Linked DNA regions of Homo sapiens: region 1 is linked to region 2. Evidence: fine-mapped expression QTL. A gene starts in region 2. The other region holds a variant in brackets. All regions are shown on one strand. Distances are between the middles of the regions. Region 1 overlaps RABGAP1L (RAB GTPase activating protein 1 like). Region 2 holds the start of GAS5 (growth arrest specific 5).

Evidence for each region.
Region 1: its variant is fine-mapped to the expression of GAS5 in whole blood (TOPMed, PIP above 0.99).

Annotation. Positions count from the first base shown.
Region 1 is chr1:174,497,644-174,500,561 of GRCh38, forward strand. The region is part of intron 13 of RABGAP1L (RAB GTPase activating protein 1 like); the gene reads left to right. Among named protein-coding and RNA genes, the nearest start is that of GPR52, 51 kb to the left of the region's middle. The variant T/A (reference allele first, on the strand shown) is at 1,621.
Region 2 is chr1:173,866,219-173,869,136 of GRCh38, forward strand. It overlaps GAS5 (growth arrest specific 5), which reads right to left and starts at 1,771. Exons shown (of 12, transcript NR_002578.4): 1 at 1,742-1,771; 2 at 773-825; 3 at 543-578; 4 at 310-349. ZBTB37 (zinc finger and BTB domain containing 37) reads left to right here and starts at 2,162. Exons shown (of 5, transcript NM_001122770.3): 1 at 2,162-2,187; 2 at 2,707-2,902. It overlaps SNORD76 (small nucleolar RNA, C/D box 76), which reads right to left and starts at 497; the gene lies at 417-497. SNORD75 (small nucleolar RNA, C/D box 75) reads right to left here and starts at 720; the gene lies at 661-720. It also overlaps SNORD74, SNORA103 and SNORD77. RefSeq lists a silencer at 2,197-2,606 and an enhancer at 2,241-2,918.

The DNA of each region.
Region 1 (2,918 bases), 630 kb after region 2:
CCTCTTTCCCTCCCACTCTTTGCCCTTTTGTCATTGGCAGCTTCTTACAGATTCCCTTGCTGTTTTTATTTTCTCTCTCTCAGTCCAACAAAGACTGCTTATAAAGAGCAGTGACCTTGTCATTTGAACAAAAGATTCCAAGAACCCTGTGTAGGTTGGTTATTGATTTGCTTAACTGAAGAAACTGATTAGCTACTTCATCTGTTGTTGAGTATCTCTATTAATGTCAGGGAGTTACATGTTACAGTATTAGTAGCTCTGACAGTGACTGTCTTCAAATTAATTTTACTGACTGATTTTATCTCAGAGTTCTTATCTATAGAGTGATCACTATAATACCTCCCAAAAGGAAAGATAAAATCCCTGAAAGTGCATTACCTTAGAGGCTTATTTTAAAACAAGTTTTATTTTTTTATTTCACATTTTTAAAGTTCCAAATTATGCTTGGAAAAGATAATATCATTTAGGCCTTTAAGTTTTTTTTAGCTTTGAATTCACTGATATGTATTTTTCATTTAGATTTGAAATATGATAATTGAGAAGAGTATATTCAACAAAAGAAGAGTGAAGTAATATATGAATGTATATGTAAACCTAACTACATATATTTATAGAAATATGCATATGCTTCCATAAATATTAACCATACGTGATTATGTTTGTAATATTCACATATTGCTTAGGAATGCTAATTAATTAAAAGGTCTTGTTGAATTCAAATTGGTTTTACAAGCTTCATTTTAATGATTTGTTATTATTACTGTGCGACTTTGAAAAACCAGGTCTATTGAACTTATGGATATGGGAAATACATATATTTAAACTGAAACAAAACGTTATTTTATTTTTATTTTTTATTTTTTATTTTTTTGAGAGAGTTTTGCTTTGTTGCCCAGGCTGGAGTGCAGTGGTATGCGATCTCGGCTCACTGAAACCTCTGCCTCCTGGGTTCAGATAATTCTCCTGCCTCAGCTTCCTGAGTAGGTGGGATTACAGGCGCATGCCACCACGCCCGGCTAAATTTTTTTTTTTTTTTTTTGTATTTTTAGTAAAGATGGGGTTTCACCCTATTGGCCAGGCTGGTCTTGAACTCGCGACCTCAAGTGACCTACCAACCTCGGCCTCCCAAAGTGCTAGGATTACAGGTGTGAGCCACCGCGCCTGGCCTGAAACAAAATTTTAATTGTGACTTTTTAGCATTACTTTCTCCTCAAAAAGCCAAGAATTGACTCTTTGATATGTTATCTAGTGAAATAAATTTGATATTATTTTCTTTGATTTCTGTAGAGAATTTTTGTTTATAGTTTAAATTCCTTTTGGATAACATTAGGAATTATTTTAATAAGTAGAGTAGGTTTTCTAATTATTAGTAAGTTGTAATTATTTACCCCCTCATTTTTTTTCAATCTTACAAAAGGCCAAAATATCACAATGAACATATCCAGTAGAACTGGGGGGAAAATTAAAAATGAGTTTCTTTATGCAAAATTGCTACCACATATAATGCATTATGATATGGGGAGTGGCTTACAGTTCATATATTCTTATAGTTTATATATTCTTGATTAAATCTTTTACAGAACTTAGAAATTTAAGTTAAAAACACTTAAATTAAAAAAA[T/A]TTAAGTTATTTTATGTGGATTAATTTTAAAATTAATAGCATAGTAGAAAGATGATTGTAATCTTCAAAGATTTTCAAATTAGTGTATACCGTTCATATGACTTAGAACATTTAGGAAAACTACAGGTATATTTTGGCATAGAAAATAACAAAATGTGGATTATTGTTTTTACTTTTTTGTTGGATTTCAATTTGATGTTTACAAGTATTGAGGTTATTTTATATAGTATTGGAAAGCTTGGATACCTAGAAACATGGATTCTTAGTGGTGGGTTTTGGCATCAAACACACATTGGCCTGAGTCAGAGCTTCATCCATTTCAAGCAATGTTACCTTGGGCTACCATTCCGAGCCTCAGTTTCCTTGGTTATGAAATGGGAGTGATGGCAATTATCTCAACGAATTATTGTGAAGATGAAATGATAAGATGTTTAGCGCAGTGCCTGGCACTTATTGAGGGTTGGTAAATGGTAGTTGTTGCTAATTGTAGCAATGACAACAGTTCTAGTGTTGTATAGTGTGAGAAAATAAAATCAAATCTGAAACATATATCACATCACTTTCATAGCTTTCTCTCTCTGTTTTCAATTTCTGTTCCTGGGACTCTCTTTTAAGTTCATATATTATAATGTTATTAATTTTAGACCCTAATAACTTCTAAACTGTTTAGAGTCATAGTTATGTAATCATAAACTTTTAGAGCTGAAGGGAATTTGGGGATCATTTAGTCCAAACCTCTTATTTTACAAGAAAGAAAATTATGTTTGGAGTAGTGAAGTGATTTACCCAGTATAAATTACTTGTGGCAGGCTTCTTCTTTTTTTTTTTTTTTTGAGATGGAGTTTTGCTCTTGTAGCCCAGGCTAGACTGCAATGATGCGATCTCAACTCACTGCAACCTCCGCCTCCCGGGTTCAAGCGATTCTCCTGCCTCAGCTTTCAGAGTAGCTGAGATTACAGGCGCACACCACTACGCCCAGCTAATTTTTGTATTTTTAGTAGAGACAGGGTTTTACCACATTGGCCAGGGTGGTCTCAAACTTCTGACCTCAGGTAATCCACCCTTCTCGGCCTCCCAAAGTGCTGGCATTACAGGTGTGAGCCACTGAGCTCAGCCGGTGGGTTTCTTATAAGTGGAACGCTGTTCATTGTACCACATACTGGCCCCCTCAATGTATCATTCATTTAAAGTGTGAGGCTCTGTTAGTTTGATTTGTTCACTTGAGACCCTGTTATGCACTGGGTACTGTGCATGAAATGAGAACTATAAAGTTCCTACCCTGCAGATATTCATAGTGA
Region 2 (2,918 bases):
TACAAAATTGTCAGCAAAAAATATTTTAATGGTAGATTGGTGGTACACTGCTTAACCATTAACAGCAAACCACAACTACCCCAGATACATCAGACAGATAGTACATCTCTTCATGATTAAATCTGCTGAACTATGCAACCATCATAGTATCTGTTTTCACATTTTCTTCAGTATTAAACTTAGTATCAATATGAGAGCAAAATTCTCATTTGAAAAGAGGGGAGAGAAGCACTAACATAGATAATCATCATTGCTTTGGCTATTTTCTAATCCCTTAAAAGTGAGAAGTACAAAATAGAGGTGTCTCACCTGTGTGCCAATGGCTTGAGTTAGGCTTGCTCTTTAGGACCTGGGAAGAAACAACTTCATGTGAACTTAGGTGTACTCTCTATGTTCCCCAACTCACCATTTTGGGTGCCTCAGTTAAGATAATGGTGGTTAAGATCCTCATCATTCTAGCACTCAAGAGTAGCAAATAAACTGTCATCATTGTGGCACATCCAATGGCTTTAAACCTTTTTGAGAGGGAATTTTCAACTTACTTCAGTAGCTATTCTCATCCTTCCTTGGGGACACAACTAGAAAACAAAAAGATGCAAGCAAAACAGTGAGAATGAACCTCACAGCAGTCACGTTAAATATAAATGCTGTTAACATTAAAGCCTCAGAATAGAATTTCAGAAATCCCTTCTGTCCACTACTCTTAAAGCATCACAGGCTGAGACCACCTCTTAGATTTCATTCTTCCCACCATACTTTCCCCAATTCTTACCTGTCCATAAGGTGCTATCCAGAGCCACACTGCATCTGCACCCAGCACCATACCTAAAGAGATCAGGTACAGATTTTAATTCATTGTTCCACGGTTCTTTTTTTTAAAGAGTGTTCTTTAAAAAAACGGTTCGTCTTTTTAAACCAATGATGCAGGTAACATACCATTCATTATCTAGCGACAGGTAAAGGATACACTTAATGTTACAAAGAAGCACTGCACCCGCAGTTAAGAACCACCGATGGCGGCCGGGCGCGGTGGCTCACGGCTTGTAATCCCAGTATGTTGGGGGACCACGGCTGGTGGATCACCTGAGGTCAGGAGTTCAAGACCAGTCTCGCCAACATGGTGAAACCCCGTCTCTACTAAAAATATAAAAGCCTAGCATGGTGGCGCGCGCCTGTAGTCCCAGTTACTTGGGAGGCTGAGGCAGAACTGCTTAACTCGGGACGCGGAGGTTGCCATTAACCGATGTCGAGCCACTGCATTCCAGCCTGGGTGACAGAACGAGGCTCGGTCTCAAAAAAGAAAAAAGAAACACTAATGGAAATATTGGTGACACTGCGGAATGCAGGCACTTAAGCACGTGGACTACCACCGACAGCCTTTCATGAGAGCGGACGGCTGATGGAGGCTCGGGTCACGGCCCTTAACAATAGCTTACTCGGGTGACTCGGCATGTGCCACCATCAGAGCGGTTGGCATTCATCATTACTCTCAGATGTCCCTACCAACACAGGCTTCATCAGAGGCAGGGCACGAGAGCCGAGGCTTCTCCGCAGTTCTACTCTAACATAGTCGCAGCTTAGGTCACGCATGCACCATATGTGCAATCCCCCACCATCCTCAACTTGTAGGCCCTGCAAAGGCGCGCGACTGGCTTAGAAGTCCCAGTCAATTCAGGGTGACCTTAGCAGACAAAGGCTGGAGCGCCCCAAAACCCGCAACATTCGCAAAGATAAAACATACCTCACAGGAGTCGACTCCTACCTCGAAAAGACAGTATGGTGCCTGGGCTCCTGTATATAAGAGTTCTTTTGATGACGTCACGACGCACGCTCCCGGCAGCGTCCGCTTCGGCTCCTCCCCCTAACCTCCCTCAATCTTCCTCTCATCCAGTATCACCTTCTTCCCACCCCTTAAGTCCGCCCCTTTTCCCCGCCCTTCCTCGCCATTGTGGGCAGAGACATGACCGTCCACGTGATGCCGTGCTCCCGCCCTCCTCCCGACTGAGGAGGAAGAGCAGAGAGGGGAGGGGGCGCGAGGCAAGGAAAGCTCTGGGGATGGGGGAAGGGGGGGCGGTGTAAGGCTGAGTGATTTCCTTCCGGCACGTCGCCCGCTCCGTGGGAGGGGGTGGGGGATTTCACTTCCGGGACGGTGTTCCGGCCCATTCCGGCCCATTTCCACCCCCGGAGGTAGGTGCTGCTCCTTGACTGGACTCGGGCCCCACACCCCAGTGCCACTTCCCTGCACCGGGGTCACCTCGCCCGCCCTCCGCCGCAGCGCGCTCCTGGGGCGCTCAGCTACTTTCCTTCACCCCGCCTCCAGGCACCGGGCGACCTTCCACCCCCTTGGCCCCCGGCCGGGCTGATCTGCCGGACCCGCCCCCTCGCGGGGCCCCTCCCTCAGGACCCCGGGAAGGGCGGCCCCCTCCCCCACCGCAGCCGGGACACACCCAGATACGCACACCCACCTCCTGGCAGCTCCCCGCCCGCCGCCGCCTGGAGCCGGTCCCTGGGCGCCGCCCCCTTCCTAGTTCTCACCTGAGCGCTGGCTCCCCCGCCCGACGCCTTGTCCCCATCTTCTCCGAAGTTCCTCAGTGACATTTTGCCCTTTAGCCAGTTCCCCTCTCCCCAGGCTTCCTAACGCAGAAGAAAGCTGCTCAAGTGCTGGAGTGGCCAACCCCATGCCGTTCCCAATTCTCCCTTTTACAGCTCTCACCCCTCCAGTGCCGACGGTAGCGAAAGACTTTCCTCCAGGGGCTTCCTCACTGGGGAATTGCCGGAAAGAGCAAACAAAAAAGGCGCTGGTGTAGGCTCCAAAATAAACACATCTGAATTCATGATGGCATCGACAGAGGCTCTTATTGGATTAAAAGTTTCAAAACAAACAATAACGCTTTGGAAAAAGGTCAGATTGGCTAAAG